Linked DNA regions of Homo sapiens. The protein of the gene in region 2 purifies or fractionates together with the protein of the main gene of each other region. This does not show direct contact. Each region holds a gene or a part of one and is shown on either strand. Other genes may lie near its edges. The genes, in order: POC5, PCF11, CAPRIN1, CPSF7, TXNDC9, EEFSEC and ATF7.

Region 1 (3,500 bases), on a different chromosome or scaffold from region 2:
TCTCTTATCCAGAGCAGAAGTCAGACTAGGGAAGCCACAAGTGAAAGCCACTGACTTCCACTTCTCCCTCCGTTCCTACATGCTAGAGGTGGTGATAGGCTAACTCTGAGTAGAGCTGACTTGGCTAAATCTAGTTGCAACTGACACCACAGCAGGAACACTATAAAAAGTTTATGAACCTCACAATATAAGATCACCATCATATTAATCTGCTCAGGCTACCATAACAAAGTACCATAAATTCATAGGCTTAAACAACAGACATTTATCTTCTCACAGTTCTGGAGGCTAGAAGTCCCAGATCACAGCCCAAAAGGGTCAGTTTCTGGTGAGGGCTCTCTTTGTGGATTGCAGACAGGTGCCTTCTTGCTGTATCTTTGCATGGCCTTTCCTCAGTACAGTATGTGCAGGTGGGAGGAGAGCATGCACAAGGTTCCTGGTGTCTCTTCTGATGAGTACATTAATGCTCTCAGGGCCCCAACCAATGACCTTATTTAACCTTAATTACTTTCTTGAAGGCCTCATCTCCAAATACAGCCACACTGGGTGTTAGGGCTTCAGCATATGAATTTTGAGGGGACACAAACATTCAGACTCCGTAACTCCATAACAGCCACACTTTTATATATTCTTAGCCAAAATCAAAAGTATATTTTGGGTGTTTGGGAAGTATAATAGTGCTTTAACAGAAACCAAGTAAGGGTGGTTTAAGTGGGTTCCTTACAGTTTCATTCTGTCTCTCATAAATTCTGAGCTGATACGTAGTCCTGAGATCATCTGAGGACCCAATCCCTTCTCTCTTTTTGCTGTACCATGAGCTGTTGACCGTGTTTGCATTGTCAGGTACTGGTGCACTGACAGTGTACTACCACTAGCCCATGGGAAGAGGGGACCAGCAGGAAGCAGCTTCGTTTTTAAGGACTTCACCTAAAGTTGTACACATCATTTCCAGTTGAATCCCATAGACCAGGTCTCTTGGCCACACCTAGCTGCAGAGGAGGCTGGGAAATGTAGCTGGGTGGCCATTTGCCCAAATCAAACCCTGGGGCTTTATTAAGTTAAAGAAATTAAAAAGAAATGGATGCTGCTGGATTAGTTACAGTCTCTATGCACTTGAAATTTTATGTATTAGTTTATTAGGACCAACACACACATTCAGGTTTATAGGAACTAGTAAATATCTTGTGCATGGCCCCAATTTATTAAGCTCTTTGGGAATTTCTTTTTGATAATTAGAAAACCAATATGCTTTGGGAAGTGTATTTTTTTTAACCTAAGGATATTTAAATCTATTTAAATAATCATAGTTACTTTTGTCAATGTAAAAATTAAATGTTGGTGCTCGCTTCAGCAGCACATATACTAAAACTGGAGCCACACAGAAAATTAGCATGGACCCTGTGCAAGGAGGACATGCAAATTTGTGAAATGTTCTATAATTTTTTAATAATTTTTTTAAGTTTTATAATATAAAAAAAGTTGTATTGTGATATCCTAAATGATTTGTTTCCTAATAAGAGCCTTCTGTCTCAGTGATAACCATTATGTAAAATACTGATTTTTATTTGCTACTAGGAAATGTAAGTTTAAAACTCAGACAGATGTTTATTCTCATGAAGGTGACATCACTAACAAAAATGGTTGATTATAGCAATATGAAGGAGATTCTGGTTGAATTTTCTAAAGATTTTCTCTTTGAAATATCTCTCTCTTCCTCTTCTGTCGTTAGCCTTAAAATATATAAAAATCAGTATTTGCTATACCTAATGTTTACTGCGTGTAAGTATCTATGTTAAATATGTGAATCAGGCCGGGTGCAGTGGCTCACGCCTGTAATCCTAGCACTTTGGGGGTCCAGGGCTGTGGATCAAGAGGTCAGGAGTTCAAGACCAGCCTGACCAACATGGTGAAACCCCATCTCTACTAAAAGTACAAAAATTAGGTGGGCGTGGTGGTACAAACCTGTAATTCCAGATACTCAGGAGGCTGAGGCAGGAGAATCGCTTGAACCTGGGAGGCAGAGGTTGCGGTGAGCCAAGACCATGCCACTGCACTCCAGCCTGGGCTACAGAGCAAGACTCCATCTCAAAAAAAAAGAAGAAAAAAATTGTAAATCAAGAAATCAAGGTTGAAGCGCAAACCAGGTCACTCTTGTACATGTAATTGCCATAAAAGCTAGCAGTTTTCAAATATATAAAAGCATAAGCTTTTTTAAAAAACAATTTTACTTAAAATTCCGATATAAAAAAGCAGATGAAAACAAAACTACAGTAGTATAGATTTATTTTGTAAATTCAAATGCAATCAGTTAATAAAAACAGTTAAGCTGCCTTGATAAATGTACATTTGAAATTGGGGGGTAATAGAAGGCCATTGCAGTTTTATAAACTTAAGTATCCAGTTTGCTTCTATATTTTGTTTAGGTTACATAATTTTTTTTCAGTTCCAAAAATGGTATCTTTTTAATAGCATGTCTCATCTTCAATTAAACCAATCTGACATATAAAATTAAGTGATAGAAAATTTTTGATTCAGTGTTGAGTCACTCACAGAACCTTATCACCTCTTCATACTTTGTTGTTGTTTCCCCAGAGACAGGATCTTGCTCTGTCACCCAGGCTGGGGTGCAGTGGTGCCATCTTGTCTTACTGCAGCTTCCAGTTCCTAGGCTTAAGTGGTCCTCCTGCCTCAGCCTCCTGAGTAGCTACAACTACAGGCACACACCACCACACCTAGCAAATTTTTGTAAAAAATTTATTGTAGAGATGAGGTCTCACTTTGTTGCTCAGGCTTCAAGCCATCCTCCTGCCTCAGCCTCTCAAAGTGCTGAGTTTACAGGCATGAGTCACTGCACCCAGCCCTCTTCAAACTGTTAATCATAAATATAAAAATCACACAAGAAGCACTCGAGGAACTCAAGCTTGGAATAAGTGGTAAAACTTTGTAATATAATAAGCATGGGACTCTATTATGGTAATTAAATTTCTTTAAAACAAATTCAGTTGAATATATTATAACATTGTAACTGTTACACTACATTATTGATTATTGGCCTCTCTTAGGAAGAATATGAAGAACTGCTTCATTATGCTATAGTGACTCCAAATATTGAACCCTGTGCTTCACAGTCATCTCATCCTAAGGGAGAATTGGTGCCAGATGTCAGAATTTCTACAATTCATGATATTCTTCATAGTCAAGGTTATATATATTTTTCAAGATATCTCTTAATTTAAAATATTACTGAGTTTATTAATGATACTGACAGGATTGTGAAAATGCCTGTCCAGATCAGTGATTCTTCTCAACCATTTATGTGTATTAGTATCATCTAGGGGAGCTTTTTACATTTTAATATATTATTCCTGACTCTCGTGTGACAGCTTGATTTTTCTTTGAACTTCATTTGACTCTTACTTTTATGAAGAATAATAAAGTTGAAGCAATGCTATGGCAACTGCATGGCTTTTTGGTATGTTGTATCTCAGTACTTGTTCCAA
Region 2 (3,500 bases):
ATTCAATACCCCCTAACAAGGGGAATAATTATGATTTCCTCTGTGACACTGCTATGTCCTGTACACATACACATATAACCCAAGGTTGTAAAAGCAAAACAAGGCTGGGCACAGTGGCTCATACCTGTAGTCCCAGCACTTTGGGAGGTCAAGGCAGGTGGATCACCTGAGGTCAGGATTCAAGCCACCCTGACCAATATGGTGAAACTCTGCCTCTATTAAAAATACAAAAATTAGCCAGGTGTAGTGGCATGTGCCTGTAGTCCCAGCTACTGGGGAGGCTGAGCCCGGGAGAACTGCTTGAATTCAGGAGGCAGAGGTTGCAGTGAGCTGAGATCATGCCACTGCACTCCAGCCTGGGTGACAAGAGCAAGACTCGTCTCAAAAAAAAAAAAAAAAAAAAAAAAAAAAGAAAGAAAGAAAGAAACAAGAAAATTTGTAGTTTCTGTAGAGCATCTCATGCCACTAACCCCAATATAACAAATCCTCTGCTCAACAATAAAAACTGAGTTCTAAAGGAAAATACATTAATATAGCACTTGACAAGTTACAAGTTACAAAGTACTTTTGCATATACTATATCATTTGATTCTCTAAAAAAAAAAAAACAACAACAAAACAGACAAATACTGATACTACCATATCATGTTTTTTTTTTGGTTTTTGGTTTTTTTTCTGAGACGGAGTCTCACTCTGTCACCAGGCCTAAGTGCAGTGGCCTGATCTTGGCTCACTGCAACCTCCACCTCCTGGGTTCAAGCGATTCTCCTGCCTCAGTCTCCTGAGTAGCTGGGACTACAGGCATGCACCACCACACCCAGCTAATTTTTGTATTTTTAGTAGAGACGAGGTTTCACCATGTTGGCCAGGATGGTCTCCATCTCTTGACCTTGTGATCCACCTGCCTCGTCCTCCCAGAGTGCTGGGATTATAGGCGTGAGCCACCATGCCCGGCCCATATGCTGTTTACAGAGGGAAAAAACTGAACCTCAGGGGAGATACTTGCTTAAAGCCTGCGCATTTATAAAGTAACATAGTAGAGATTCCAACCCTGGTCTTCTGGGCTTTAGATCCCAAATTCTTTCCTTCTCTTTTCATTATAGTAACAAAATAATAATAATAACAAATATTAATTAGTCATAATTGTCCATGTAGAAATTAAAACTTAAAAGCTTCCAAATTCATTGAATTTCTTGACACAATTTAAGGACTAATGTATAAAAAAGAGCTTGGCTAGGATTTCCTAATTACTTCAGAAGTTTTGGAAAACTCCATAAATTTATTGTAAACTGATTAACTCAATACTACAGTAAAGCATGTTTCTGAAACAGCTGTTTCAATGATTCAGAAATGAAAGCAAGTATCACTAATGTATGTACTTCCCTATTACCACATATTAAAACTAAAATTCATTTTGCCGGGCATGGTGGCTCACACCTGCCATCTCAGCACTTTGGGAGGCTGAGGTGGGCAGATCACTTGAGGTCAGGAGCTCGAGACCAGCCTGGCCAAGATGGTGAAACCCCGTAAAAATACAAAAGTTAGCCCAGTCTGGTGGCACACGCCTGTAGTCCCAGCTACTTGGGAGGCTGAGACAGGAGAATCGCTTGAACCCCGGAGGCAGAGGCTGCAGTGAGGCAATATGACACTACTGCACTCCAGACTGGGTAAGAGAGCAAGATTCTGCCTCATAAATAAATAAATAAATAAAACTAAAATCCATTTTAAAAGTCCTTTTATCTAGTACTAAGCATCACCCCATAGTAACAAAGATGCTTATCAGTGAACCTGGCTAGGAAAGCCGCTTTTTGCTATTTGAGTGCCCACAAAAACATAAAAATTAATCAACTTTATTAATGCAGTATCCTCAGTATTCACTGAGATTTCTAAGGTCTGTCATTTATTTCATTCTATCTCAACACAAATGTCATACCTTCCCTCCCACTCCCAGTTTCCACCCAATAGGTTTCCTTCCCTTTGTTTAGTGGACTACAAGTCCCCGCTAACCATCTCTAGCTGTAAATAGGGTCATTATGAATACACATCCACAATGTAAATAAACTTAGAAAAGGAACAAAAATATGTCAGCCAGATTAAATTTCTCTAAATTAAATATACCTTTGCAAAACTGTCATTTCCTAAAATTCACAAAGTTAGCTATTCAACAAAACAATAATCATTTGTCTTTTGAAAAACAAAGTTCAGAAAGTACATACCTGAAGGATTCTGAACAAATCCAGGATTTTGTGGATGAACTGGTAAAAACTGTTGTCCTTGACCAAAAGCTACTGGCTGAGCAACACCACTCAGAACCTTTAAGAAAAACCTTAATTTTAAGAACATGCTTTCTATATTTCAAGTAAAACTTTTAACATCCTAATTACATAAAAATATTCATAGATGTCACAAGGCCTGGCTTATAAATAAAGATTTAGAAAGATAACTTGGCTGCATCACTTCACTTCTAGGTCTTCTACAAACAGGAACAATAAAACCTTCCCTTATCTGTTTCATAGAGGTATAAGTTACTGAGAATGGGTTAAAACTTCTTTGAAAAGTTTAAGGTACCTACTAGAGAGGCAAAGTAGCCCCCCAAAAAGGAAACTGTAAGATACCATGCAAATATAAGGTAACTAGCTGTGTTACTTTACACAAGTCACTTTACCTTGCTGGTGCTTTCCCTTATTTTACAAATAGAAGAACTGACATAATGCAATATGATCTATACACAATCACAAGGGCTAGTTAGGAGCAAAACTGAGGCCAGAACTCCTAACCCTTGCCACTTTTCCACAGATATCAAAAGCCTGTTCTAATTAGCATTCTGAATTACCAAGCAGGTAAGCATCTTGCTTGGCCATCATCTTTGCACATGGTTATAGCCACATTACAAAGTAATCTTGTAAAAGGTCTTGTAAAAGATGTCAAAGGGAATGTTAAAAAACAGAATAGTCATGGAGCAAGAACTATACTGGCATACAAATACAGCATTTGCAGTCCAGAGGGAGGCAGGACTTCTACATATTGCTGGTATGTGAATAAATATCCATTTATAATCCTTGTTCAGTATACATGTGGACTTTTGGTAGTGAGTACACATAATAAAAACCCCACCGATTCTGTGTAATGTAGAAACAAGACTAAGTAAGTACCATTCTAGAGTATCTGTCAATAAGAGTATCATTTCTTTCAAGGATATACAGTAGAGTAAATCTAGGCAAGCCAACTGTTTTTTCGTACCATTAGAGATGAACAGAAGGACTACTTTCTATCAATAATGTTCCTAATGTACTTTTAAAATCTTTCTTATTTTGTATTTTCTTCCATGCAATCTTACTACTATAAAATAAATCTGTCATAGTAAGAAAATGTCTGCACCTGGAAAAGAAGTAAAACTCAGCCTAGGAGAATTTCAGCACGCAAGCAAAAGTAGTCATTCAAAACCAACCGAATTAATCACAAATTGTAAACATACTGCCTTAAAGTTGTCTCAGTATGCA
Region 3 (3,500 bases), about 49 Mb from region 2:
CAAAAAATAATTTGAACTAGTAAAAGGTCATTAGAACCTCCTTTTTTATTTTTTTACCTCTGAATCCATTGGCAGGGCCCCGGTATCCATTCATCAAGCCTCTAGCACCACGGGAGCCTCCACGAGACACACCACGACTATTGTAATAGGGCTGATTGCTACGTGGAAATCCAGTGTTCTGCTGAGGAGGCTGCTGGTGGTTACCAGTCACTTGATGGGACTGGTCTGGGGAACCATGGTAAGTGCCAACCACTATAATTTAAAAAAGAAAAAGATATATACATAAACAGCTCATTACCGTTTGTTCTCCCACGCACTTTCTAGTTTAAGAAGTGTCTTATACAGTCTCCTTAAAGTTTAATCCTTAAATTTGCATACAATGATAAGAAAAACTACACATGAATAAAGTCTCTTACCTTTCTCCTACCCTTAGACTCAGCTATTGGGGGTAAAATTCTCCAACCACAATTCCAAACCTTTGAAAGCAGGGTGCATGATTGATCCTTCCAAACAAATTATTTGAAAGGCTATATTAACGTCTTCTGAAAGGCATCTACTTTTTAGCACAAGAGACCCAAAATAACTCAAAAGATTTACTCTTAGTACATTACCATTTTGTACCATTTAATTACTTCTTTTCATTATAAAGCTCCTTAGTGGTAGAAGTTTTCTTATTCTTTTAAATATCCTTTTTTTTACTTAGTAAAACATACAAAACCACTCTCTCATATTTAAGCAGCTAGATGGTAGAATATGTCATCAACTACATAGTTTAATCAGCAGAGGCCTTCGACTTGTAGCCCTTAATGCCAAATTCCATTTCAAAGTATTTAAAATGGCAAGTATAGCCAATTTAGAAAACAATCACATGGTACTCACATTGGCACTCAACCCACTTGAAGGTTCTAGACTAAGGTACACACTAACATATATACAAGCTCCATCCACAATGGACAGAGTTCTAGAATCTAGAAATTTTCAAAAATTCAATACTACAGAACAATGTTTATAATTCAAAGAGGAGAAAAAAATAGGGTGCTAAAAGTACCTTTGGGAGGTGAGGAAGGCAACAGAACAAAGGAAGGCCCACACACTAACAACAAGGGTCAGAAGCTGCTGGCCAACCCAAATCTCCCCTTTTGGGGCAGAGAGAAAAGCAGCTGTATGACTCTTGAAAATCTTTACTTGACCTATTTTACACCCTTAAGAAACTCCAAATACATTAATAGTTGTTAGAATCCTATTTTACGATGAAAGCACTAGGGAATACCTAGAGAAAAAGAGAGAGCCACTGCTCCTCTTGAATTACTTAGTAAACCAACTACATCGGTGTCATCTTTTTACATAGATTGCCTTTTATTATATTCCCAAAATTTAAAATTGTAAGTGAATGACAAATACACATAACATTTTCCTTGTAAAATGGTTCATGTGTATCCATGTACAAAGTAGCCAAAAGAACTGAATTTTAGAATCATTTTATCAATAACAGCTTTTAATCTTGATCAAATCTCACTGTAAGAAATTCATAGCCAGGCTGGGTGTAGTGGCTCACACTGGTAATCCCAGCACTTTGGGAGGCCAAGCTGAGCAGATTACTTGAGCTCAGGAGTTTGAGACCAGCTGGGCAACACAGTGAGACCCCATCTCAACAACAACAACAACAACAAAATACAAAAAATTAGCCAGGCATGGTGGTGCATGCCTGTGGTCCCAGCTACTTGGGAGGCTGAGGTGAGAGGATGGCTTAAGCCTGGAAGGAAGAAGTTGTAGTGAGCCGAGATCGTACCACTGCACTCCAGCCTGGGAGACAAGAGCAAGACTCTGTCTCAAAAAATGAAAGGAAAAAGGAAAGGAAAGAAAGGAAGAAACTCACAGCATAATAACTTAAGTGTGATCTTTATTTTATTTAATTTTCACTTTTAAGACAAGGTCTAGCTCTCTCACCCAGTACTGCTGAGGTTGGAGTTCAGTCAAATAATCTTGGCTCACTGCAACCTTGAACTCCTGGGCTCAAGTGATCCTCCGGCCTTAGCCTCCTGAGTAGCTACAACTACAGGCATTCACCACCTCACCCTGCTAATTTCTGTATTTATTTTATAGAGGTGGGGCTCTGTGTTGCCCAGGCTGGTCTCAAACTCCTGGTCTCAAGTGGGCCTCCCAAAGAGCTGGGATTACAGGCGTGAGCCACCACACCCAGCCTTCATTTTATTTTAAAATACCCAAATTCCTACTTAAATTTTGGTAAAGTATAAACTTGTAGGCCATTTTAAAAAGCCAAAGATTCTGTCATGTTGTTCCTGATTAGACACTAATTCAAAATAAAATTTCTAAAATGATGGGACATACTGAAATGATTTCTTCAACAAATATCAGGCCGGGAATGGTGGCTCACGCCTGTAATCCCAGCACTTTGGAAGGCCGAGGCGGGTGGATCACCTGAGGCCTGAGGCAGGAGGCCGAGGCAGGAGAATCGCTTGAACCCAAGCGATTGAACCTAAGAGGCGGAGGTTGCAGTGAGCCGAGACTGCATCACTGCACTGGACAACGGCCCACAATGTATACATATTATTTCATCATGAACGCCTGGCCTCAAGCAATCCTGCCACCTCAGCCTCAAATGTAGCTGGGATTATAGGTGCCAGCCATGAAGCCCGCCCACAACGGACACACATTTCAACACATCATGCTGTATACCATAAATACACATATATATAGTTTCTACTTCTCAATTAAAAATAAACAAATGAACTTTTTTTAAAAAAATAGAAAAAGCAATCCATGTACTTATCAGTGGGAGAAAGTTTTCGGCAAGAAGGAAAGTAAGTATGAAGGCCCTGAGATTAAAGAGAACTTGCTGCGTATGTGACTGGTGTTCGAGACCAGCCTGGACAATATGGTGAAACCCTCTCTCTACTAAAAATACAAAAAAAAAAAAAATTAGCCAGGCATGGTGGCCTGTGCTACTTGGGAGACTGAGGTAGGAGGATCCCTTGAACCCAGAAGCAGAGGTTACAGTGAGCCATGGTGATCACACCACTAGTTTTTATCATTTGGAAGCTGAGCATAGTATAACTGATAACTTCTATCAGAGTATGGAAGATTCGAGCTTCATATTAGTGATACTGAATACTACAGGATGTGTAAGAATTTACTACTGAAAAATCTAATGCTGATCCAAGTTTACCAAGAAATTGAATAATTAGAAAATTTTACAACTTTTCAAAATCGGGCTGACAAAATGAAAGTATTAACTCCTCTGACTGCTGGTTTGTTGTGGGATTCCAATTAAATTCTGAGGAATTAAAGAACTAAAGAAGACATCATGGTGGCTCATGCCTATAAGGTAGAGGTGGGAGGACTGCTGGAGGCCCTGAGTTTGAGAAAAGCCTGCAGTCCAAGCTACTTGTGGGGAGTTAAAGGCTCCAGTACAGGATTTGAGCCCCAGAGTTAAAGGCTCCAGTATCTGATTACACCACTGCACTCCAACCTGGGCAACA
Region 4 (3,747 bases), about 22 Mb from region 2:
TCTCTTCAATTTGGATCGAATTCAAAGATTCAGAAGCCCTAATGGTATGTAATTGAGTGCACTGAGGGCTTCAGTTTTCCCTTAGAGAAAATGGGACAAATACCAGCCTGCGTAGGTGTTTAGACAGGCCAGGAAGGCTTAGGCCATATAGATTCTGAGGACCCAAGCTGAAAATAGTGTCATTTCGGTGTGTACAAGGATCAGGGAGGACGTAGATGTCTCCTCTAGGTTTTATAAGGCCACTTTACAGAAGTAGTTATATAAAAGGTAAACATTTGTGCGTAGGCTGTGTTGCCAGTTTGGGCATTAGGAGAAATTCTAATTCCTCATTTTCCCTTTGGCTATTAATTCTGTTTAATATGCTCAGACTGACCATACCACCACCCGCAGATGGGTATTGCAGCATTGGAACAGGTGCTGAGTATAGTAGGAACTTTGTTTGGTGGCCATGTGACAGGTGGCTTAATAGACCCTTTTGGGTAAAACTTCTTAACTGCATTTAGGTTTCTTCCATGCTCTGCTTTCTGTTCTGGCCTGGCCACGTGACTCCTGCTTAGTGTTAGTATGTTTCCTGGTTCCTCACCTATGGCTGTCATGCGAGGAAAGACTTAAAATCTCGAGTTTTAGTACACTTGGAAAACCTCTGGGGCTGTGTTTGTGTACACACATACTCATAAAGGCACTTTTAGCCAGGACTCCTTTAAAAAGAAAAAAGAAGGATTTAAGAGTTTCCTGTGTATGTGCATCCTGCCTGCTAGGGCCTCTTGGGTGTTTGGGGATTAATGGATTTGGTTGTGTACATACTTGTTTTCTTACCACTAAACCTCCCATTTCCAGATTTTTCCCCCTCCCCTTAAGGTAAGCTATGACTTGCACAGAATAGACTTCTTAACCTATATTTAAACTCACCTTATTCCCTTTTAGCAACTTTTCTTGAAATATGTCACAGTTTCCATACTTTTGCAGCCAAAGTCTCCTTTTCAGTCGAACGTTCAGAGACCTCATTTTGTTCTGTTTTTTCACCGAATCTTTATAGTGGATGTCACTGCTTTTTTTCTCTCTACTCACAGTAGCTTCTCCTCCAGCCATTCCTCACCACTTCTAGTGTCAGACAGTCCTGCTTTGTTTTCCCAGACTTGCATTCTCTGTCTGCATTCCTTACTTCTTATGTTGTAGCGTTAGAATATGTGTGTTTTATATAAGCCCCTGTCATTCAGAAAGTAACCTCTAACTTGTGTTTTCTTTCTTTTCTTCTGATGTTCTCATTGCAGGAGTCTGGTTGGAAGCAAATGTTTTTTTAATGGACTTGCATCTCCTCACCTTGATCAGGACTAAAGGACGGAGGCCGCCCCACCCCCTTCCCTTTCCTCCAAACCCCTAACTCCCTCCAGACACCCAGGGAATACCCTCTGCCCCACAGGATTGAAGACTGCTTGGCAGTCCTCCCAATCCCACACCTCCTGTTTGCCAGGGGAAAGAACCTAAAGACTTCGTGTGATTGGGAGGGGTGGCAGACAGGAAGAAAACATGTCCAGGCCCCTGGTCTCCATAGAGAATGGTGCTTTGTCCAAGAAAACGTATGAGTTTCTGATTCTCCGGGAGCCGTTCAATGGTGAGGTTGATGGGAAGACTTCCTTCCCAAAGAAAATAGATCCTCCATGCAGGATCTAGGAGAGTGACTGGGTGTGCCAAAATATGCCCAGGGTCCTGCCCTCAGCACTAGATTTAATGGGGCCAAGAGGGTCCAAACCCCTTGCTAACATACCACTTCTTTGTTTAACTCCTTTACCTTTCCAGCCCTTTGAGGAGGGACCATGAGAACAGAAATTACCTTATGAAAAGCTACTTCTGTTCCTGCTTTCCCTCTCACGTATTGACGGTTTATTTCTTTGACCTCCCAGAGGGCTGAACTCTTTCAACTCTGCGCTGCCCAGCCTTCTCAGTGGACTTGCCCCTCCTAAGCAGAGAAGGCCTATGAGGTTGCTTGCTGCTGGGAAGCCTGGCAGAGCCAATTACCACCCTCTGCTGCTTAGTGCTTGGGTACCTCTTGCAATAACCAGCTCTTAGTTGTTCCCTTTCCCTGGGGCTTTTCCATTTAACACATGGAGCCCTTCCCCCAGAAGGCTACTTCCTTGTTTTAGAGGAAGGTACTGCCCATTGGGAGATGGGGACATTGGGACCTCAGCAATGAAGAACCCTTGTGAAGTAACCAGGAGGAATGGGGAAAGAAGCAAGTTGGGCAGGATATGGCCTACTTCCATAGGCTTTTCTTTTTTCAGGTTTGATGTAAGCATGGGCTTACATCCCCCAGGTACATACTTTTACTTATTGTGGGATAACCTGGCACTAGTAGGCAGGTAAAGTCACAAATTTGGTGTCTTTTCACCTTTTGACTGTTGACTTAATAGCTCCTCTCACTCTGCCTGGAGATACTTCCTGCCTCAGATGAGGAGCCAGAAGAAACAGAGCCCGACTTGAATGAACTCAGCTCAGAGTTCTAAGGACCAGCATTCTGGGGGCCATTTTCTCTACAGGCAAATGGAATTGCTTTTCCATAACATCCAAATTGTAATGTGGTTGCTGCTGAAGGAGGAGGCAGCAGCGAGGTCCTGCGGTACCCATGGGGTGATGCTACTTCTGCATGCATCTACAGGGCATCTGACACCTAACATGAGACGTGGCATGTGAGATGAGACTTGGCATGTGAGACATAGGGTCACTAGAGACCCTTCTGGGTCAGAGGAGAGAGACTGAATTGGACTAAACCCGTCCTCTGTTCCCAGCACGTTTCTCATATAGCCCTCAGTCACTGAGGGAGTCCCCCGCAGGATTGGAGAGGCACATTCCCTTGGGACAGAGGCTACAGGTTGGAGCTTTTTTTCCCCTGTCCCCCAACCCCATCCCCACCTCCACTTCAGAACATGGCACCCCACCCAACTGGCCAAGTGTTAAGTGATGTGCTTATTGAGAGCAACTCCGGGTGTCTTTTAAAATGTAGAGAAAAGGTGACAGTTTAAGGAAAAATATATATAGAATACCAGAAATGCCGTTTACCCGGAGAATTTTTTTCTCCCCATTTGTTTTGTTTTTACTCAATGACACCATTTTTAGTTTTATTTCCTGATAGCAAAAGGAAAAAAAACACCCATCCCTCAAAAAGGCCAAGGTCCCGTCCCCCTGTTGTCGGTGATTTGTTTGTCTTTCTGATAGGTTGAAAATTGTGTAATAAACTTGATGACGCTGTCAATCTTTTATACTGCATTGTATTTTTTTCCTTTTGTAACAAAATATTTTTAAATAATAAATGGGGTGTGAGCTGTTTTATGGATTCTGCATTGAATAGATTTGTTGAGGTGTCTGGGGCATGGGCATGGGCTGATGTAGACACTCGAATGATGGTGAAATGCCAAGTTCTTAGCTAGGATTGCATGTCAGGCAGTGATACATGGCTTTAGTTGACTGTGGAAAGCCTCCTAAGAGACCTCTAATGCAAACCTTTGGAGGCATCCCTTAAGGTTTAGCTTTTTTCCTTGGCCATCTAAACAGCTGGTTAAAGAAAACTTCTAAGTTATCCTTTACCCTTCAAGATTCCTAAGACTTATTTTCAGAGCAAATGTTCTACCTTGTGCAGTTAAATTCCAGTATCAAGTTCAGGAAGGGAAGAATCCTTTGATAGGAGTTAGAAGATCTGACTGGTAGTGCCTAGTTTACCACCTGTTTATCTAAATATGGACAAGCAGTGTAACC
Region 5 (3,500 bases), on a different chromosome or scaffold from region 2:
GGCACACACCTGTAATCCCAGCTCCTCGGGGGCTGAGGCACAATAATTGCTTGAACTCCGAAGGCGGAGGTTGCAGTGAGCCAAGATCACACCACTGCACTCCAGCCTGGGTGACAGAGCAAGACCCTGTCTCAAAAAAAAAAGTATTTGTCTTTTAAAAAGCTGCTATTTCTAGGCCGGGCGCAGTGGCTCACGCCTGTAATACTAGCACTTTGGGAGGCTGAGGTGGGCGGATCACCTGAGGTCAGGAGTTCAAGACCAGCCTGGCCAACATGGCGAAACCCCACCTCTACTAAAAATACAAAAATTAGCCGGGCATGGTGGCAGGCGTCTGTAATCCCAGCTACTTGGGAGGCTGAGGCAGAAGAATTGCTTGATCCTGGGAGGTGGAGGTTGCAGTGAGCCGAGATTGTGCCACTGCACTCCAGCCGGGGCAACAGAGCAAGACTCTTATCTCAAAAAAAAAAAAAAAAAAAAAAAAAAAAAGCTGCTATTTCTTTTCATTATTTATTCTCAGGTATTTAACCAAGAGGCTGAAGACCCGAACCTGTCCTGGGCTCCTTTGAGGGAGGATGTGCCCATTCCAAACCTCTACCAATGCTCAGGGCCTCTCCTGACACATTCACTACACCCCTGTGCTCTTAGCATAGCCCCTTTTGGACAGCATGTGCTCCTAAGGTATCTGCAGAACAGAATCAAGCAGGATGGGCCTACCTGAGGCATGGCAGCTGGGCAGCACCTGGCTGTCAGTGGCTGTCACCCAAGCCTCTGCTTAACTCCTATTTCTTACCTTATCCCTCTATTCTGCTCCCTACCTAAGTGTGCCAGCTCTAGTTAACAGTAGGAGGGTGCTTGGCTGACAGAAGAATATAGATTCACCTAGGTCTATTAAGTGCCGACTGTAAGTCAATGCATACAATGATCTCCCCAATACCCTCGTGGATCAGAAAATCAAAATTACTGCATAATCTAATTACTGTATAATCTCTTATAAAAAGAATATCTATACAAATCACTAGGTTTCTTGACTATTTCCAGAAAATATTTTAATAAAAGACCTACTAAAATGCAGTGAAAGTTCTAAAATAAGACCCTCTGAATTACTCGATGACAAATTCATTTTAAATTGATTTATACATTAATAATAAAAAAGGCTTATAGCCAGTCTGCCTTAGTTGGTTTTAATTATATTCAGACCACTGTTTTGAACTGCCAAAAAGTTCCTTTAAGACATTATTTAACGTATGTTCATCACTGCAAATCAGGTGAATTCAGTCTCTCTACAAAAATATCCTAGTTACAAATAATTATTTTTAGTTGCACATTAGCAATTAGTACTTAAATGTGACTATGAAATATGAGTTTGTGGCAGAACCTAAACATATATTACCTTAAATTCCAATAATCCGTCCTTTGCATACTAATTATCAGCCCTATACTATGAAAAGAAGCCAATTGGGCCTGGTGTGGGGTGGCTCACACCTGTAATCCCAGCACTTTGGGAGGCTGAGGCAGGCGGATCATTTGAGGTCGGAATTTGAGACCAGCCTGACCAACATGATGAAACCCCATCTCTACTAAAGTACAAAAATCAGCTGGGCATGGTGGCAGGCACCTGTAATCCCAGCTACTTGAGAGGTCAAGGCAGGATGGGCAACAGAGTGAGACTCCCTCTCAAAAAAAAAAAAAAAAAGAAAGAAAAGAAAAAGAAAAGCAGCCTATTTTTTAAAATACGGTAGGGTACAGGTAAAAGCCATATAACGTACTCTATTTTAGAAACTCAAAATATAAAAATTTGGACTCACTTATAAAAGATTATTTCCTTTTGTAGTAACTCTTCTAAACATGAGGGTGTAAACATATCAAAGTGATGCTACAGCAATACAAACAAAACTCCTTCTCTTTTTTTGTGGGGGAACTGGGTCTTGCTCTATCATCCAGGCTGGAGTGCAGTAGCACAATCTCGACTCACGGCAACCTCCACCTCCCGGGTTCAAGAGATTCTCCTGCCTCAGCCTCCTGAGTAGCTGGGACTACAGGTGTGCGCCACCACACCTGGCTAATTTTTGTATTTTTTGTAGAGACAGGGTTTCACCATGTTGGCCAGGCTGGTATTGAACTCCCGACCTCAGGTTGTCCGCTCACCTTGGACTCCCAAAGTGTTGGGATTACAGATGTGAACCACCATGCCCGGTCAAAACTCCCTATTTCTTCAGAAAAGTTAAGCCTCATGTTTAAGTCACAGTCAACTGAAAAGGAACCAGAGTTGGTGATAAAGTATTTCCATGTAACCCAGTGGAAAAAATGTTTTAATCAAAATTCAATTTGGCCAGGTGCGGTAGCTCACGCTTGTAATCCCATCACTTTGGCAGGCTAAGGTGGGCGGATCACTTGAGGTCAGAAGTTCAAGGGCAGCCTAGCCAACATGGCGAAACCCCATCTCTACTAAAAATACAAAACTTAGCCAGGCATGGTGGTGTGCGCCTGTAGTCCCAGCTACTCGGGTGGCTGAGGCAGAATAATTGCTTGAAGCCGGGAAGCGGAGGTTGCAGTGAGTTGAGATGACACCACTGTACTCCAGCCAGGGTGTCACAGCGAGACTCCATCTCAAAAAGCAGAAAAAAAAATTTCAATTTACAGAATTTAATCCACTGGTTTCAGTCAGAGTTTACAACTCTGCGTTTATTCTACACAAACATTCTAAGAGGCAACAACGATAGAGCTGTGGCCACCTTTGTTACAAAGCATGCATTCTTTTGAATATGCCACATAATTATTTCATTGGAAATGCCTGAAATACATTTTTCAACATAAATTGACTTAATTGCTCTTATCTCATCTGTCTTATCTCGTTTGCTTTGAAAATAGCTAAATCGGCTTTAATATTACCTGAAATGGAAACCAATGACTCCCTAGCCCTCCATTCAACCAAACAAATCCAAGCTCAGAAAAACGATCTTGGGCAGATCTTTCTTTTACTCGACTGTGGATTAATATAGAGATTGGGCTAATTTTGAATGTCTTTAAAACATATTTTTTTCTGGGCAAATTTTTAACAGTAATAGGTATTCTGAATTTTAAAAACCCTAAACACAAAGAACGAAATGTAACTACTACAGCACATGTATATATAAGTTGTTAGGCGCATACTGTTATAGCAATTTCAGAAAGCAGGGCAGAGAGGTTACTTGTTTCTGCTGTTGAGCTTTCCTTAGTGCCTGGAGTCTCTTTTCTTTAAGGCGTTCCAATTCATCCTCATCCATCTGATCCAGTTTTTGAATTTCAGAATCCAAATGTTCTTCCACCAGTTTGGTAGTCTGAAGCAGCTGATGCTCCAGGACTTTGGAAAACATGTCAACAGATGCATCAGCTTCCATTCTTCCAAATGGTACAGAGTTCAGCCTGGGTGCTGGGGAGAAGATTTACAAAATACATTTTAAAAAATGCAAACAATAAGCAAGGTTTTCTCTACCATTTTCAAAAATTCTGGCAAGTGTATA
Region 6 (3,500 bases), on a different chromosome or scaffold from region 2:
CTACTATAGTCTACCCTCTGGTACCCAAAATTTACATCCATCCCACATGCAAAATACATTCACCTCTTCAAACATCCCCCAAACTCTCAGTCCATTAGGCCATTAACTCTAAGTCCAAAATCTCATCTAAATTATCATCAGCTCAAAAAGTTCCTAATGTCATCATGTAAGTCACCTAATCAGGTAGGGGTGAGACTCTAGATATGGTCTATCCTGGGGCAAAATGCCTCTCCATCTGTGGACCTAGAAAACAATTTACCTACTTCTAACATTCCAAAAGGGAGACGGTGGAAAAAATACAAGGTTCATTGGTCCCAAGCAAGTTTAAAACACAGCAGGGCAAATTCCATGAGGTTTCAATACCTGAGACTGACCTCTGTGGCTACTCCCCTAGCCTCACTTCTGTTTCCAGAGCCCTGCTCTCAGAGTCATTCTTCCTTTTTTAGTTTTTGAAGGATAACATGTGTTTGTAGCTGAGTTGTTCTATCAGCCTGTTTCTTGTCTGTAGAATCCCAGAAGTCTGACAGCTTTTTATTCATTTGTCAAGTCTCTCTCCCTTTCAGTCCAGTGTTCTTGCTGGTATAACATTCTCAAAACCCTTGAGGGTCTCTTATATACATCAAGGGGTCCATGCCATTAGCCAAGACGGCTCTCCGCATAACTTTGCTATAGAAGTCCATCTCTATTTCTGGTTGCTGCTAAGTTGCTTGGATCTGTGAGTCACACACCTCCTCTCTTCAACAGAAGGTTGTCCAGGCTCACCTTTGGCCTTCTCTCCAAGGTATGCTTTCTCAGCAGTGAATTTCCTAATCTTAACATCCTTTGCAATCTAGAGGGACTGAGAACCTCCGAAATCATCAAGCGCTGATTTCTGTTTGCTAACAGTTCCTTCCTCAATTCATTCCTTTTCCCTCATGTTTTACTATAAGCATCAATGGAGAAACAAGGCAGCATCTTTCACAGTTTGCTTAGAAATCTCCTTAACCAAATGTCTCAGTACATTGCTTACAAGTTCTGCTTTTCCTGACTAGTAAATTAGATCATCAGGCAGTAGACACCAAAAGTGTTAAAAAGTAGGCTGGGGAAAAACAGGTGCACAAAAGTAAAAGGAGAATTAAATTTGTATCTGCCAAGCACCTGCCATGTGCCCAAGTACTAAAGATCAGTAACTGGCATCCTGATAGGCAAGTTCCACCTTTATAAGGACAAAGAGGGTGGCCAAAAAGCTCAGAACAGGACCCCACTCGAACATCCCTGCCTCCTTACCACTACTGACTTCTCTGCCTCAGCCCTTCTCCATGCCCTCAGCCCTAACATTGCAGCCACTGACTCTTATCAAAAACCTTTTTCTCCCTCTAGAACCTCAGGTACCCCCAATTCAAAGTCTACCCCACCCCCCAGAGAGCCCTCTTTTGACACCTCTTTCATACTCCCAGGTCCTCTCCCAAGCTGCAAGCATGTCTTCTCCCAGAGTGGAAGGGATGCCAGGTCAGAGTGGCCCCCAGAGGTCTGACTTAGGAAGCACAGAGACTGGAAAGAAATTTAGTACTGATTCATTTTCTGTTCTAGCAAAGAATCTGCAAACAGTCACCAAAGTAATCTTAATTTTGTTAAATATAAACTGAATCTACTTTTACACTTTTGTGCTTTATTTTTGAAGATTTGCACTTTTAGTCCCTGGCTTAAACTAGATTTTATTCAAGTGGTCTTTTTCTGGGACCAATGGTCTTCAGAGGAGGACATGACAGCAGGTAAAGGAGGGGACTGTGACTCACAGTGTCTGGGGGACATCCTAACACCCAGCTCTGGCCAGGTTCCAGGGCTCCTTGGATATGGTGGGGCCCTGCCATTCGACTCCTCCCACTAGATCCAAGGAGCTCTGGAACCTGGCCAGAGCCAAGTCCTTTCTTTTGTTTTGTCCTTTCTGGTCAGGAGACTCTTCCCTAATACCCCTGGCCCCTGCAGAAGGAAGTAATAGACACACTGCTGTAAAATGAGCTGGGGGGTTGAAACCTCAGGTTGCCTTCATTTGGGGGAACCCTGTTCATGCCTGCCCTCCATGAAATGCCCCTTCCCTATATCCAACCATGCTGCTCTAGATGAGGGATGGCACACGCAAGACATGGGTGCCAGTAGGGACCCTCTCCACTTCCCTCACTCAGGCCAGGTGCTGCTATCATGGCCCTCTCACCCAGCGGGTGATGTGGTTCATTTTATGTGTCAACTTAGCTGGGCCACAGTGCTCCAACTTTATTCTGAGTGTTTCTGTGAAGGTGTTTTCAGATGAGATTAACATTTAAATTGGTGGATGTTGAGTAAAGCAGATGACCCCTATAATGTAGGTGGGCTTCATCCAATCAGTTGAAGGCCTTAAGAACAAAAGGATTAACCTCCTCAGAGAAGAGGGGATTCTGCCAGCAAATGGCCTTCAAGCTGCAGCTCCTCCCTAGGCCTCAATCCTGCCAGCCTACCCTGTAGATTTTGGACTTGCCAGGTTTTATAATAGTATAAGCAAATTCCTTAAAAAACGTATCTATTTATCTATCTGCATCTAATACTAGGTGCATTAGTTGGTGTTCTCCAGCAAAACAAAACTAATAGGAGATACAGATATCTACATATTTACATCTATGTATCTTTACCTATGTATCTATAGATACCTAGATATCTGTATCTCCCATTGGTTCTGTTTCTCCGGAGAACCTTAACCAACACACCTAGTGAGCCAGACAACCTTAAAATGCCTCAATACAGCCTCCAGGTAGCCATTCCCAATTAACATGCAAATTGAAATCATGCACATCCAAGCCTCTCTAGCAGCTAGCTGAGTCCACAGGGCTGAGCACCTCCACTTCCCTGCACTGTAGGCTCCTTCAAGGATTAGAGAACTGCCCTGGACCCCAGCATTCCAGGCAAGGTCTCACATGAATTCTAAGTAGCATGTGTTCCCTACCTTTTATTCTTGTTGAAGGGGAGGGCAGTCAATGAGGCTGTAAGTTTCTCTTGTCGCATAAAGTAAAACTATTAAAAATGCCTTCTAAATAAGGGGAATATCAAGGCACTATCTTTTAAATCAGAGCCAGGCCATCATAGTAGAAGGAGGGGTGATGGGAAGGCACCAACCACTCATCCTTCTCACAGGTCTTCAGAAGAATAATGCGGCATCTGTCGATGGCCACCAGGAGTGCAAAACCAACCTGGATTTCTTCCAGATTCTGTGATTCTGAGCATCATAAGATTCACGTCATGTTTAATTTGAAATTACTGTGGTTAAGAAAAAGGTACCCAGAAATAACTCCACACATACTTGCCACCCTGACGTACAGCGTCCAGAAAGGGAGGTTTCCCCTCCAGCAGCCCCACTTGTTAACCATGTGATCTCAAGCCCACCTCACCTTCTGGAGCCTCAGTTTCTTTATCTACACAGAAGACCTACTTGGGAACACCTCCTTGAGGCACATCATAGGCCTCCAATAAACAGGCGCTATGAGAATTAGGGA
Region 7 (3,414 bases), on a different chromosome or scaffold from region 2:
CAGCCAGCTAAAGGGGAAGTCCTGAGCACAAGTTACGGCTGTGAATTTTTAAAGGCAAAAGTGAAGTCCCTGGATGTGGTAACCTGCGTCCTGACCATCTGCCATAACATTTGCTAGTCTGAATCACTTCAGGGCCTATTCCTGTTGGGTACCTGATGGTAGAGGATGAGAAAACCGTGTTTTCTCTCCTTTGTCTTTAGGGGTGTGGCCTGTTCAGCACCAGCTCTGAAAAGCAGGAGGGGAAATTTAAAACAAATGCAGCAGAACCTGTTACCTGACTGGTTCACTAGGACAGGATATCACTTTAAGGAAACGGGAATCTTGTAGCTTAGAACATTTTCTCATTCCCCTGTGACAGTCAATTTTGGAGACAAAATAAGAAAGGAAGCTGGCAGTTATTTTGTATGTATGTTTAAGATGGAGGTAGGAAAGATGGAGAGAAGGACATTCTTGGCTTGCACAGATGGCAGAAAGTGGCTCTGGGACAACTGGAAGGGTTTCATACGGAAAGGCAATTAAAGCTGACCTATCTATCCACAGGCCTCTGGCTCTGAATTGCTTCCTATGGTCCTGGTAGAAACTGCATAGTTCAGAGCCAAGGGGAGATGAGAAGCCTTAACGTGGAAGAGGGACAAGAGAGATGAATTGCTCCCTCTGCAACCCAACTCTTCAAAGTAAGAATGGTTGAGAGCAATAGTCACCAATTTCCCAGGCCAGAACCTGGGGTCCTTTGCTGGGACCAGTTCTGCACTTTCCCTCTCCTCTTCCTCCCTCCTTTCAATCTTATACTCAAGTAAACCCACTCAGCATCTTGGCTATGACGCTTCAAGATCCTGGAGCACTGCATGTAAAGAGAAGAGAGAAGAAATGGGTTGAAGAAACTCTGGAGGACCTGGAAGACCTAGTGGCTAAGCTAGGAACCTGGTGAAAGAGAAAGAAGATAGTCCAGACGGTGATGGGCACTTGTGAACAGAAGACTCTAGCTCAGAAAAGCAGACAGATGTGTGAGGGGGAGAGATGGGGTAGAACAAAGGAACTCGAGAGTCCCCTACATGACAGCCTCCAGGAGGGCTGAGTCTGAAGTAGTTACAGAAGAGAGACAGGGGCGGTAATGTTGATAGGGGAATGAAGAGAGAGAAGCAGGAGCAGAAAAATGACCAAAGATGACAATATGCTTTGGCCGGTAAACTCTTATAAAACATAAAGGAATCGATTAATCCCTAACTTGATGGAACAAGCTTTGAAATACTTTGTTCCTGTCTGCCCTGATGGTTAAACTAAAGAAGGAGGGAGGGGAGGAGACAGAATCAGCCAGTCAGATTCTGGGCCCTTCCCTTTTCACTACCAAGCAATCTTTAATAATAAGGCCACAAAATGAGGTTGCCAAGGCTTAGTGGGGTGGTGGGAAAGACCCCACCACTACACTAAAGTCAAGGGACAAAATGAGGTACCCAAATAGCTCTGCAAATAGATGAAAAAGAATTAGAACTCTTGAGGGTTTCTTTCTTTTTGGTGGCAGGTAGAGAGAAGGAATAAAGCTTATGGAAAAACTGGAAAATACTGCTACTTCATACATCAAAGGTAACCTTACATTCTCCGTAAGTGAATGTTTTAACTAGAATTAAGGAAGAGGAAAAAGGAAACGGGTAAATAAGCAGCTATGGGAGACCTGAGTCCTGAGTCCATGGGGTGGCTGGGGCTGGGTCAGCGGGTAATATGTCATCAAATCTAGCCTCCCTCTATCTGGCAGGAAGTGGCATGCTGGTAAGGAACAAAAAGGTAACAGCCACGGCTTAGTGGGAAGAGAGGGAACTGAGAAACCCCAAACCTAGAAGTGCCAAGGGTTAGTGTTAAAAGAGACAGATACACGTGCATGGGGCAGGGGTGATTGTTCGGACCATCTGGAAAGGCCTTTGGCTGTGGATGCATCAGAAACCCCACCCTGGGGGATGATCTATGAGGCTCCGGGGCTGGGAGGCCCCCAGCACAGGTGTCAAACGTACATGACCACATGGCTAAAAAGCCCCATATCTGTCCATTACTCACAACACACAATTCCCCCCACCCATATTGCCATGTCCAAGGCAGATGGGAGGGGATAAGATGACATCTCTCTTGGCTCTTGGGCGGGCGAGCTCTGGCTGAGGACCTCTCCACCAGAGGAGGCATCATCTGCCCGCAGACTGGGACTGTGGGGTCATGATTACATGCGATTGTATCGGCATGCTCAGTTCTGTCCTTTGGCTGGCCATCTGAGTGAGGACCGAGGTGGCCACAGCTTCAGCTGCAGAGCGAACACTGAGGCCATTGCTAGGGGCTGTTGCTGAGCTGTGCTGAATCACAGGGGCTGGAGAACCCGTTGGCTCTGAGCTTTCCTTGGGGCTTTCTGCCAGGAAGGAGGGCAAAGAGCAGAGAGCAATTGGTTAGAAAACAGAATGGGGAAAGAGGCAGGACTACCTTTTGCCATAATTCTAAAGGAGCCCAAAAGGGAAATGAAACCCATCTTTTTTTTGGGGAAAACTTCCCAGAATCCTGGCTTCTAAGTCATAAATGGGCTAGGAAATGGGAAGTTGTAAGAAGGGAAGAACTAGGCCAAAATTAACCTATCTATTCCAATAAAATGAATCTCCAACATGTTAATTACACTGTCTGGTTTCTAGGTCTTTGCATAGTTCATTACCAACTCTTATTATTATTCATTACTTCTATTCTTTCTTGTTTTTAAGAGATAGGGTCTCAAGTGATCCTCCTGCCTTGGCCTCTCAAAGTGCTGGGATTATAGGCATGAGCCACTGCGCCTGGCCTTCATTTCTTTAAAGATGATTTAAAATAGATCTCTTTTTAGCCATCCTCTTTGATTAATTCTCACAGGAACTGAATTATTCCATTATTTTATTTATTTATTTTTTTTCCTAAGACTGAGTCTTGCTCTGTTGCCCAGGCTGGAGTGCAGTGGTGCAATCTCAGCTCATTGCAACCTCTGCCATCCAGGTTCAAGTGATTCTCGTGCCTCAGCCTTCCGAGTAGCTGGGACTACAGGTGCACACTGCCACACCTGGCTAATTTTTGAATTTTTAGTAGAGATGGGGTTTTGCCACGTTAGCTAGGCTGGTCTCAAACTCCTGACCTCAAGTGATTGGCCTGCCTTGGCCTCCCAAAGTGCTGGGATTATAGGCGTGAGCCACTGTGGCAGGCCTATTCCATTATTTTTAATGTTCCTTTACCATGTAGTTGTACCACAGGTAAGTCTGATAGATATCAAGCTATAATTAAATGATATTATGAATGGCCAGTCCCTGGCCCGGGTTCAGTTAACATGTAAAACTACAAAGAAATCTTAAGACCCTCCTGACTAAAAATTAGCTAGGCATTAATGATTATAAAACATTATAAGTTATGCCACTCCACCTAAAG

The links.
Region 1: the proteins of PCF11 (region 2) and POC5 purify together in Homo sapiens (co-immunoprecipitation; one large-scale study listed by IntAct). This does not show direct contact.
Region 3: the proteins of PCF11 (region 2) and CAPRIN1 fractionate together in Homo sapiens (co-fractionation; one large-scale study listed by BioGRID). This does not show direct contact.
Region 4: the proteins of PCF11 (region 2) and CPSF7 fractionate together in Homo sapiens (co-fractionation; one large-scale study listed by BioGRID). This does not show direct contact.
Region 5: the proteins of PCF11 (region 2) and TXNDC9 fractionate together in Homo sapiens (co-fractionation; 2 studies listed by BioGRID). This does not show direct contact.
Region 6: the proteins of PCF11 (region 2) and EEFSEC fractionate together in Homo sapiens (co-fractionation; one large-scale study listed by BioGRID). This does not show direct contact.
Region 7: the proteins of PCF11 (region 2) and ATF7 fractionate together in Homo sapiens (co-fractionation; one large-scale study listed by BioGRID). This does not show direct contact.

The regions. Positions count from the first base shown.
Region 1 is NC_000005.10:75,707,438-75,710,937, reverse strand, and holds part of POC5 (centrosomal protein POC5), read left to right. Parts: intron 1-3,062; coding exon 3,063-3,201; intron 3,202-3,500. UniProt on the Homo sapiens protein: Essential for the assembly of the distal half of centrioles, required for centriole elongation. Acts as a negative regulator of centriole elongation.
Region 2 is NC_000011.10:83,170,631-83,174,130, reverse strand, and holds part of PCF11 (pre-mRNA cleavage complex 2 protein Pcf11), read right to left. Parts: intron 2,314-3,500; coding exon 2,217-2,313; intron 1-2,216. UniProt on the Homo sapiens protein: Component of pre-mRNA cleavage complex II, which promotes transcription termination by RNA polymerase II.
Region 3 is NC_000011.10:34,093,231-34,096,730, reverse strand, and holds part of CAPRIN1 (caprin-1), read right to left. Parts: intron 253-3,500; coding exon 58-252; intron 1-57. UniProt on the Homo sapiens protein: mRNA-binding protein that acts as a regulator of mRNAs transport, translation and/or stability, and which is involved in neurogenesis, synaptic plasticity in neurons and cell proliferation and migration in multiple cell types.
Region 4 is NC_000011.10:61,402,229-61,405,975, reverse strand, and holds the end of CPSF7 (cleavage and polyadenylation specificity factor subunit 7), read left to right. Parts: intron 1-1,271; 3' UTR 1,272-3,247; downstream 3,248-3,747.
Region 5 is NC_000002.12:99,329,834-99,333,333, forward strand, and holds part of TXNDC9 (thioredoxin domain-containing protein 9), read right to left. Parts: intron 3,410-3,500; 5' UTR 3,378-3,409; coding exon 3,189-3,377; intron 1-3,188. UniProt on the Homo sapiens protein: Significantly diminishes the chaperonin TCP1 complex ATPase activity, thus negatively impacts protein folding, including that of actin or tubulin.
Region 6 is NC_000003.12:128,264,981-128,268,480, reverse strand, and holds part of EEFSEC (selenocysteine-specific elongation factor), read right to left. Parts: intron 1-3,500. UniProt on the Homo sapiens protein: Translation factor required for the incorporation of the rare amino acid selenocysteine encoded by UGA codons. Replaces the eRF1-eRF3-GTP ternary complex for the insertion of selenocysteine directed by the UGA codon.
Region 7 is NC_000012.12:53,514,969-53,518,382, forward strand, and holds part of ATF7 (cyclic AMP-dependent transcription factor ATF-7), read right to left. Parts: intron 2,641-3,414; exon of another isoform or gene 2,387-2,640; coding exon 2,169-2,386; 3' UTR 1-2,168. UniProt on the Homo sapiens protein: Stress-responsive chromatin regulator that plays a role in various biological processes including innate immunological memory, adipocyte differentiation or telomerase regulation.